2 separate regions of the Homo sapiens genome follow, and region 1 is linked to region 2. Evidence: fine-mapped expression QTL. A gene starts in region 2. The other region holds a variant in brackets. All regions are shown on one strand. Distances are from middle to middle. Region 1 overlaps OSBPL10 (oxysterol binding protein like 10). Region 2 holds the start of OSBPL10 (oxysterol binding protein like 10).

The links.
Region 1: its variant is fine-mapped to the expression of OSBPL10 in whole blood (TOPMed, PIP above 0.99).

Annotation. Positions count from the first base shown.
Region 1 is chr3:31,958,040-31,963,412 of GRCh38, reverse strand. All of the region lies in intron 1 of OSBPL10 (oxysterol binding protein like 10), which reads left to right. Among named protein-coding and RNA genes, the nearest start is that of OSBPL10, 21 kb to the left of the region's middle. The variant T/G (reference allele first, on the strand shown) is at 2,436.
Region 2 is chr3:31,978,887-31,984,259 of GRCh38, reverse strand. OSBPL10 (oxysterol binding protein like 10) reads left to right here and starts at 2,998. Exons shown (of 12, transcript NM_017784.5): 1 at 2,998-3,361. The coding sequence starts at 3,081. It overlaps ZNF860 (zinc finger protein 860), which reads right to left and starts at 2,510. Exons shown (of 2, transcript NM_001137674.3): 1 at 2,358-2,510. RefSeq lists a silencer at 3,239-3,308 and an enhancer at 4,863-4,912.

The sequences.
Region 1 (5,373 bases), 21 kb after region 2:
CTTGATCATCATATGGTTCTATAAGAAAATGTCCTTGTTCTTGGAAAATACATAAATACATAAATATGAAATATTTAAGAATAAAGGGAGATGTCTACAACTCATTCTCAGATGGTTGAGGAAACACTTTATATAAGGAGAAGGGGATGGGAAAGGGAGGGAGATGGATGGATGTGGGTGGAGGGGAGGAAAGGAAGGAAGGACGGGGAAGGGAGAGAAGGGAGGGGAGAGATGGCTAGAGAGCATGATAAAGCAGATGTACGCAAACATCAATAATTTTTGAATCTGTGTGAAGGGAGATAGAGGAGTTCTTTGTCATATTCTTGCAACTCTTTGGTAAGTTTGAGTCATTTCAAAGTACACATTTAAAAAAACAGAAAACAAGGAAACACATGGCTCCTTTGAGAAACAGGAGTCACACCACTTCCTGTAATATTATTTGAAATTGCCACAAAAGTGAAGTCTTTTGATTGAAAGCAAGTCATTGTATTGCAAGATCCAGGAGATCAGGCATTAGACCTAAGTTCTGGCACAGTGCCTGGCGCATAGTAGGTACTCAATATTTGTTTAGTGAATGCTATCAAAGCAGCAGTGATTTTGGCATTGGCTTTTCCCATTTGTGCATTTACCTTGCACCCAAGTGATTTGGATTTGCTCCCCTAGACAAGACTTTATGTGCTCCTGTGGTCTTTGTGAAAACAGCCAAATGGAAAAGTTTTGTCTCAGGGAGCTTGCGTTACAACTTAGTGTAATGGGAGCGATTGAAACCCTAACTGTACATTTCTTGCGGGTAAAAGCCCCCTGGAATCAGGCAGAGTATTTATGGCACTTCTCCTGTGCTGGTTCCCATTTAAAGATGGTGAAATCTCAAAAAAAAAAATAGTGTTTCATTACTTTTATAATATGTAGAACATATAGTTTACCATTTTAACCATTTGTAAGTGTACAGTTTGGTGGCATAAGTATATTCATACTGTTGTGAAACCAATACCACTTTTCATGTCCGGTACTTTTTTATCATCCCAAATTGAAACTATACCCATGAAATAACTTTATTGTTGTTATTTGCTTAGAAAATCATTTATTCAACAGAATTATAGTTGTTATCTGTGTTAATAGTAGGCTACAGGACCTCGAATCCAAAATTGGTGATGCCGGCCAGGCGCGGTGGCTCCCACCTGTAATCCCAGCATTTTGGGAGGCCAAGGTGGGCAGATCACCTGAGGTCAGGAGTTCAAGACCAGCCTGGCCAACGTGATGAAACCCCATCTCTACTAAAAATACAAAAAAATTAGCTGGGCGTGGTGGTGGGCATCTGTAATCCCAGCTACCCAGGAGGCTGAGGCAGGTGAATTGCTTGAGCCTAGGAGGCAGAGGTTGCAGTGAGCTGAGATCACACCACTGCACTCCAGCCTGGGCGACAGAGCGAGACTCCGTCTCAAAAAATAAAAATAAAAAAAAGCAACCCTCCCCTCTGCCAAAAAAAACTCTTAAAAAAAAAAAAACCAAAACAAAACTGGTGATGCCAAAATTAGAGAACTTATTTAAATGTAATTAATAGCAATTATCTTGAAAGGGAACCTTTAGAAATATAACAGGAACATCTGCTGGTGTACATTAATTAATTTCTGTAAAGATTATAATTATACACTAGAATATATGCCATTTAAAATGAAATTTAATACTCAGGAGGCTGAGATGGGAGGATGGCTTGAGCCCAGGAGTTCAAGGCTGCAGTGAGCTATGATTGCACCACTGCACTCCAGCCTAGGAAATAGAGTGAGACCCTGTCTCTAAAAAATAAATAAATAAAATACAAATGTCAAAAGACACCAATAATTAGCCCAGCCCCCTCCCAGCATTATTAGCATTATTAACATTATTAACACACACACTCTCTAAATAGAGCAGTTTTAGGCTCCCAGCAAAATTGGAAATATAGAGTTCCCATGTCTCCCCTACTCCAACACATGCACAGCCTTTTTAATGATACTTTACATTTTAAAAATAGTATCTGTCTACTAAAATAAAATCAGAGACGCTAGCTTTCCGAGCCCTGGGAGCTCACTTTTCTCCTGAAGCCTTCCCTGGCTTCCTGGGCACTGCAGATCCCTCAAATTTAGGTTCTACCACCACATTCTTGTTTGGTGACTCGTGATCTAGCCTCACCCACAAGGACAGTACAGGGCTCGTGTTTGCTTAGGTGGTGCTCCATATTTGATTGTTGAGCCAAAGAGTGGGTTTGGAGAGCTTCAGAACTTGATTTGTTATAGAATAGCTTCATTCTTTATGGAGTGGGTTGCACATGAAGAATATTTGATGTAGAATGGCTCTGGCAAGTTAAAAAAAAAAAAAAAAAAAAAAAGGCTGTAGCTTCTTGGTTAAACATTGACAGAAGGAGGTCCCTTGGGGAATTTGTGAGCTGCTAGGTGGTT[T/G]ACACCATTTTTTGGGCAGCTTTGAGGTTCAAGCAGTTTGGTTTTAACCCTTTGTAGGTCAGGTTTTTAGACCTTGTAATCTATTTTCCCTTTTAAAGGAGGAATAAGGATTAAAGAGGATAAAGAGGATGGTTTTTCTGTAAGAGAGAGTGCTGGTAATTCTCTCCTGGTGGTGAGCATTTGTAGGGTGGGGTAGGGGCACAGATGGCACATGGCTGATGGCCTTGAGGGAGAAGTGGGTTGCACAGTCTCTTGCAACAGTTTCCAGAGTGGGGAAGGTTCAGAGATGCTCTTCTGGTTTCTGAGCTTGTGAAGAGAGAGACGTAGAGGAGAAAGGGTTAACTTCCATTTTTACTTGGAAATGGATAGTTTAAGCTGGGGAGGGCCTGTGTTATGTAAACTAGCTTGCAACCTTCTGGTGTCCATTTTAGCCTTGCTTTCTCATTTAGGTCAATTGGATCTGAATAAGGAATTTGGCCAGACAACAAAATATTTAAACTGGTTCCCCTATTGCATCTCATTTCCACAGTCTGTTTATAATCCTAATTGATGCAAATGCCCTTGTTATTGTGAATGTGAATACCCTGAATGCAGGGTTCTGGTTTGTTTCATTTCACATTGTATTACTGAACGTGGTGAGGGAAGCTGAGGGTCTGAGTGACAAGCGGAGTGTGGCTGGATCCAGCCTTATTTTGAAGGATTCCTTTGGCACCCAGGGGCCCAGGGATGAGGTGCTGTTTTGGGAGGCTGGTAAAAGTTCAGAAGCGATCTCTGAGACTCCCTATCTGCCAGATTCCCAGACTGTGAGCTGCTTCAAGATCAGGGAAGTTTTTCGGTACGTAATTTCTTAAGCACTCAGCAAAGTGCTAAGATAGTCTTCCCTGCCTCAGGGAGTTTGGAAGGACATTTTTCCATGGAGTACATCAGACCTAAGAGGGAGAGTTTTGTTTTTCTTCACTGATAGGCAACTTTCATTTTCTGCATTTGAGAGAACCTGATTTTAAGTAGCACAGTGGCCACGTCACAATCCAGGAATAATTTTGGCATTTTTCCTGTATCCTTTTTCTGCAAGTGTTTTTCACAATAAACCAAAATAACCTAGTCAAGGGGAGAGGGAGGCTAACATTTTCTTTCATGGAGCATTATTCTGAGGCTTGAAGGTGCTCAGGTGAACTTGCCCAAGTTCTGTTTTACAGGTGAGGAAACTGCCTCAAATAGATGACATTTAATTCAAAGTTACACACGGAGTTTGTCGCTGAGTTAGAACAAGAAACAGAATATGCTTCTCAGTCAGTTTTGGAAAAACTCCAGAAAGGTGATGCTAAAAATGGTCTTTTTGCCTTGTGTTTTGTTATATAGCAAAGAATACCCGCTGGCTTCTCATTATCTAGCTGATGCCCTGAGACTCATCTGATGTTCTGGCTTATGTATTAGCTGCTTTGAGTGATGGCGAAAACTTCAAAATGTGCAGAGAGCTCTTCCTTGAACCCAGTGATCCTGGGGTATTAACAGATTGTGTTTGGGATATCTTATCTCTGAGTCTCATGCTAATTTCCTCTGATATATAGCAAAAAGACTGGGTTTAACAGTAGTTTTCAGTAGACAAAGTTGCTTTTATTTTATTTTCCAGGTTATGAATACAGAACTGGCCTTTAGGACTGCTTCTGATCTATCAGTAGATAGTACACTGTTTATAGTGCTGCAAAAAGAGAAGGTGGACTTGTAAATTCAGGAAGGGACCTGGCTAAATTTGATTAGACTGCATTAAAAATTTGAGACTTTTCTCTGTGAGCCGATATCTCGTAGCATTTCTTTAGGACAGAGCACTCTTTAATTGAGAGTTGTTCTTGCCTGGACCTTGGCTTGTTGGCAAATGCAGCATGTGTGATTCCATTGCGTGCGTCTCCACTCTTGAACTGCTACTTTGGATCACAATTACTGGAAGTGTCTTCTAGGGCCCTGACCCTTTAGAGATGACATTTGACCTTTGGGAGTCTCTTCCATGGTGCATTAATGAGTTTCCCATGTGCTGGAGTGCTTACTCTTTGGTTTAGTACAGGGGTTAGAAAGGTTTTTTTGTAAAGAGTCAGATAGTAAATAATTCAACTCTGCCATGGCAGCATAAAAGCAGCCCTAGGCAATATGTAAACAAATAGACATGGCTCTGTTCCAATAAAACCTTATTTGCTAAAATAAGTGGTGGGCTGGATTTGGCTCAAAGGCCTGTTCTCTAGTTTAGAGGCTTTTGGAACACAAAGCCGAAACACCCTTGGCTCTTGTGTGAGAGAGAGAAGAATCCAGTATTCAGAACATAAACATCTCAGTTGAAATGTAGCATCCATGGTGAGAAAGATGCTTTGTGTTATTGAAAAGTTGACATAACAAATATAAAGACTTTTTTTGGGAAAAAAATGGGCCCTTGTCCTCCCATCCTAATACAACTGTTACTGATTTTTGTGCATTTCTTTTGAGTCTTGTCCTCCTGCATATGTACCTCTGTGAAGTCCTGATGTGCGCAATACCAGTTGATATTATTAAAAAGCATAACACACCATATATCTGACAGTTGTTACTACATTGGATCTAGTGAGGCCTAAAACATACAAACTAGATTTGTCAGAGAAGATATTTTTAAGGACTAATTTGTGAGGTGTACTGTCATTTTGTGCATTTTTAACTTTTTTCAATTGCAAGAGTAATACTTCACTCATTATTTACTTCAGCCCTAAATATTAGTAGAAATCAGGCCAGAGCTAAAGTAAATCAGGTAATTGGCTATTCAGGGGCTGAAAGATGTTTAGTGGCAAAGTCACGCTTTAGCTCTAAGTTAACATTGTGGTCACAAGGGTATTCTGGTGGCCCGAGAGTTACTGCACCCCTCCTTGCAAATGGCTACAAAGGCTAAGACATAGCACACGTTTAATTTTTTTCTTCCTTC
Region 2 (5,373 bases):
GACCATCCTGGTGAACACAGTGAAATCCCATCTCTACTAAAAATACAAAAAAATTAGCTGGGCATGGTGGCAGGTGCCTGTAGTCCCAGCTACTGGGGAAGCTGTGAGGCAGGAGAATGACGTGAACCCGGGAGGCAGGGCTTGCAGTGAGCTGAGGTCGTGCCACTACACTCCAGCCTGGGTGACAGAGCGAGACTCCAGTCTCAAAACAAAAACAAAAACAAAAACAAAAAAAACCCCTTAGGCTCTGAATTTTCAGGGAGATTGATTTGAGTAATAATACACTCCTGTGCTCCAGCTTGGCTGGCCCTACAATTGTTAAACTCTTCCTCTATTGCAAAAACCTGCATTGGCTTTTCCGGGTAACAAGCAAGATGAAACTGTTGGGCATTACAGTATGTATTTCAAATACTTTTTGCCAACTTATTATGTATTTTCCAAATTGTTTTTCAAACATAAAGACTTTTTCCTCTCCAAACATAATTCTGCAGGTACCTTTTCCCTATTTGCTATACTACGGTAGGTCAAGGAAAGCTTTCTGGAAGAAGTGACTTGTAATCCATAACTCCATGGGTGAGAAACACAAACCGGGTGAAGAGAGCAGGGAACAGTGTCACCAGCAGGAGGAACAGCATGTGCTTCATCACTCTTTCATGATATAGCCTCTACTTTCAGCACATCTGCTCCACTCACCTCTTGGACATTTTTGATCCCATACGGCTGGCTTGCTCCTGCCCCATCCTGGCCTTGACTATTCCTTTTAGCTTAGTTCCTTCCCCACTTGAACTGGTCTATCTCAAGGGTCTAATTTTTTAGTCCAAGGTGAGAATTTGTTGTGCTAGCTCATTCAGTCTTAGGTTGGCTGCATAAGGTGGAGTAATGGTGGCATAGGTTAGGTAATATGAAATAAAATGACACTTCTCCTCTTTTAGCAGGAGCTTAAGGTGGCAGTCTCCAATAAAAGGCATGTTGTTTTGGTACATAATGCTGACATTTATAGTCCAGTATGCACCTACCTTCCCACCTTCAGTCTGTATGTCAATGCAGGACTCAATGAACACTCATATATGATCAGTAAGTTAGCTTAGGCAAAGCTATGCTGTGGTAAAAAATAATGCTAAAATCTCAATGGCTTCAAACAAACATTTTGTGCATGTTACATGGCCAACACTAACTGGCTTAGGATCTGCTGTATTCCACACCTTCTCACTCCAGGACACAAGCTTAAGGAGAGTCCTTATCCGGGACATGCTGCTCTCCTGGGATAAGGAAAAGAGAAAGATGGTGGAACCATATGACTGCTCTTAAAGCTTATGTTTGGAAGGGGCATTCATTACTTCTGTTCACATTCCATTGCTCAAAGCAATTCCATGGCCAAGCCTAAGGTCCATGTGGAGGAAGGATACTCTTTCCATAGGAAGCGGCAGTAAATATTTTGAACAAATGAACATTCTTGCATAGTTTATTACAGCCGGTATCATTTGTCCCATTTTGCAGTGAGAAAACTAAGGCTAAAAGAGGTAATTTGATCAAGGTCATAGGTTAGAATTCAGCTCTGAATGGCTTCAAATTTGGTCCAGGCAAGCTCTTTTCAGATTTTTTTTTTTTTAACACTATGTAGGCACCTGGAATTGTAATTTACTCAGGGGCACAACCACTTCTCTTCAACTCCAGAAGCTTCTCCGTGCATCTCTAGAGCTAAACCACCCATGAAATCTTCCTGGAAGGATGTGAAGCTAGAAAGGGGTTGGGCTCGGGGAACTGTCCCTTTGAGAGCTGACTTTTCCATTTAGTAATTTTTTTTAACTCTTGAAGTATTTATCTGCTTGATGGGTTTGTAGATCCTTTGGACGGAGATCACCTATCATCTATCACCTTTTGTTTTGTCTGTGTGTGTGTGAGAGAGAGAGTCTGAGTTCCTCAAAGCTTTTTTCTAGGTAATTTTTGATACTTCAGATTACAATGGATATCTATATTCACAAAAAATATTAGTGGGATAGAAAGAGTATCTTTAGGTAGGAAGAGGGGCGCAGAAGTTACAGCCAACACAGAGAATCCTTCAATGTTTGTAAATATCTGTTAATTTCCCTTGCCTCTGGAGCAGTTTTCCCGGTTTCAGAGCCTCTGCTCCTAGGTGCACGTGCAGTGTGGTAGCAATGGATAGGTTTTGACTTGCCAGGTTTATGCGTGCCATTCAGGGCAGGGGATTAGGGTTAGGCCAGTGAGTGACCTAGGACACTCAATTTAAGGAAGCACTCGCACAAACCTGAGAGTTCGCGCGCCTCACCCCAGCCCAGCCGTGTGTCTGTTAAGCATTTATCATAATCCTGCTGCATGAAAATGCCCGGCGAGCTTACCTGTGAGGATCACCTGCCACTCCCCTCCTCCGCCAGACAACGCGGAGGGCCTCCCTGAGCTGTGACTTTGCTCCGCCGGTGATAATTTCCAGGTTACTGTGTAGGAGCGTCTGGCGCAGCATCGTGTGCGGAAGACCGAGAGAGGGAGTGTGCGTGTGAGCCTGTCAGGCCGGGCGGGTCCATATCCGGGTGGACCGGGTGGGTGGGGCTGCCCCTCCCTCCAGGTCCCGAGGTGGATAAGGGGTGGGGAGTGACGTGCAGAGATTCCCTTTCGCCCCTTCGGATCCAAGAGAGGGTGGCAGAAGGAATGCGTGGGTGACTTGGCGTGGATTTAGGGCGTGCCCACCCTGCAGATCGGCCTCCTAGAGTGTCCCGAGGGCCTGAGAGGCCGCAGGGACACGAAGGAAGAGAAGGAGGAACCCGAAGAGGGCTCGCCTAGCCGGCCACCCGCTCCGAACTTGCCCGGGAAACTAGTGCGGAGGGAGGGGCCGGGCCCTGGCCGCGGCGGGAGGAGGGGCGGCCGCAGCTGCATCCAGCCCCGTTGGCTTCCTTCCCAGCTCTCCTTCGCCTCCTCCTCCTCTTCCTCCTGTATGAGTCAGGCATTTCCCGGGGATTTGGAGCAGGCACGCGCGGCCCGGGCGTCCGGAGCTGTAGCAGCAGCAGCAGCCGCCGTGCCGGGGCCGCCACCGCGGCGGGCACCCGCGTCCCGGGCGCCCACGGACCATGGAGAGGGCAGTCCAGGGCACAGACGGCGGCGGGGGTAGCAACAGCAGCAGCCGCAGCAGCAGCCGTGCTACCTCGGCGGGCTCCTCGCCCTCCTGCTCTCTGGCGGGCCGGGGGGTCTCCAGCCGGTCGGCGGCGGCCGGGCTCGGCGGCGGGGGAAGCCGCAGCAGCCCGGGCTCTGTGGCCGCTAGCCCGTCCGGGGGAGGCGGCCGCAGGAGGGAGCCGGCGCTCGAGGGCGTGCTCAGCAAATACACCAACCTCCTCCAGGGCTGGCAGAACAGGTAACGCGCCAGCCGCCCGCGCCACCGCGCGCCGCTGTGTGTGTGTGTGTGTGTGTGCGTGCGTGTGTGTATGTGTGTCTGTGTATGTGTGTGCGCGCGCGATTGTGCCTTCAGCGAACCCAGTGATGCCTCCCAACGGTGCCCTTCCTGCGTCCCTGCTCCCCTCCAGGTGGGGTTCTCAGGATGGGGCGCGCCGTGGCTCCACCCCGGGACCGCACCGCAGTGGCGGGGAGGGAGGCGAGAGCCCTGGTTTTCTTCTATGCTGGCACCTGCAGAGACTGGAGTGGTGGCAGGAGGATCGTGCTGGTCCCCGTGCTCTGCTTGTCCGCGGTTTCCCGCACGCCTGAAGAATGACTGGGAAAGGGAGGCAGAAGGGGCGTGCTTTGTGCCGGGGTGAAAAAGCGTTAGCACGTCCGCTCCGATTACAGTAATTCTCTAAGTAACAGTTCATTTTAAAGTTTGGTGTTTCAGAACACCACCACCATCAACAAAAAACCTGCCACTTGTCATCCTGGGCGACTGTGCATACTCCTGCCCCAGTTTGTGCCTTGCAGCCTCCGATGTTTGTAATGGAAGTTTTGTTTAAAAACAGAAAGAGGCCGGGCGCGGTGGCTCACCTCTGTAATCCCAGTACTTTGGGAGGCCGAGGCGGGCAGATCACGAAGTCAGGAGTTCGAGACCAGCCTCGCCAACATGGTGAAAACCCGTCTCTACTAAAAACAAAAAAAATTAGCCGGGCGTGGCGGCGCGCCTGTAATTCCAGCTACTCCGGAGGCTGAGGCAGGAGAATCGCTTGAACCCCGGAGGCAGAGGTTGCAGTGAGCCGAGATCGCGCCATTGCAATCTAGCCGGGGCGACAGTGCGAGACTCCGACTCAAAAAAAATAAATAAATAAAATAAAATAAAATAAAATAATAAAAAGAAAGAAAAAATACCCTCCCCCTTTTAATATTAGTAGCAATTTACATTATTATCATTATTTCCTCTTCAGGTCCCATTTGAAGTTTCCTGCTCACTTCCCCCTTGCAGTTGAGAAGCCTAGTTATGGACACGTGGAAGGATGGGGCTGTCGAGGAAAGGGGCTCAGGAGGCACTTGGAATGGTGGTAGTGTGTGTGATCTGCCATCGTGAGGAAGACAAGAACAGATGTGGCACTACTGTTTACTTTTTGTTTTTGTTTTTTTTTTCAATTTGTTTTCCAAAAACAAGCCAGAGGGAAATACAAGTGTCAGTGCGAGGAGAACAATGCTTTTTGGAGAGGTGGTTGGTGGGATATTTTGTCCTGCCTATTTAACAGTCTCCAGATCTTAATAGACTTGGGGCTCTTAAGGATGTTTGTGAGATTTGAATTATACCCTGGAAAGTTGCTTATCTCTGCTGCATGGACTATATTACTTGGTTATCTCTTCCTGTAGATTGTTTGGAAATGTTCAGATTTGCTTCCATCTGAAACATATCAGCCAGTTATCTGCACGAAACTCAACTTGGAGGAAGAGGTCTTTTGAAGTATGGAAACTGAGTTGTTTCTATATTGATATTCTACATATAGGACTTTCTGAGTCACCTGGGCTTCCTGGGAGATGTGTTACTATGTTAGTGGAAGTTGCACTTAACTTTTGAATCCTTTTATTTCTCAAAATAGTCCTAGTGTCTGCTGTTGCCTCTCCCTTCCCCTTTCAATTCGTGAAAGCTGAAAAAGAATAGGTAGAATGCGTAGGTAGAGGGAGATATGAGATGACTAAATCTGATTTCAGTTCTTGGTAATTATGTCTCGTTAATGGCAACTCAAGGTGCCTTGTCAGTAACAGCATTTTGTTGGTGTGTTGAGCAATCACTTAATGCTTTTTCTTCAAGTAGATTATGAGGCCAGCAAAGCTTTTACCCTGGATTACAGTTATTTTATTATTTACTTGCTGGGGAACAATATTTTACCTTGCAGTCTGTATTAAAGGATTTGTTATTTGGAGTGGATTTAGGAGGCATTGGAGTAACATTCTTTTGCATTATTTTAA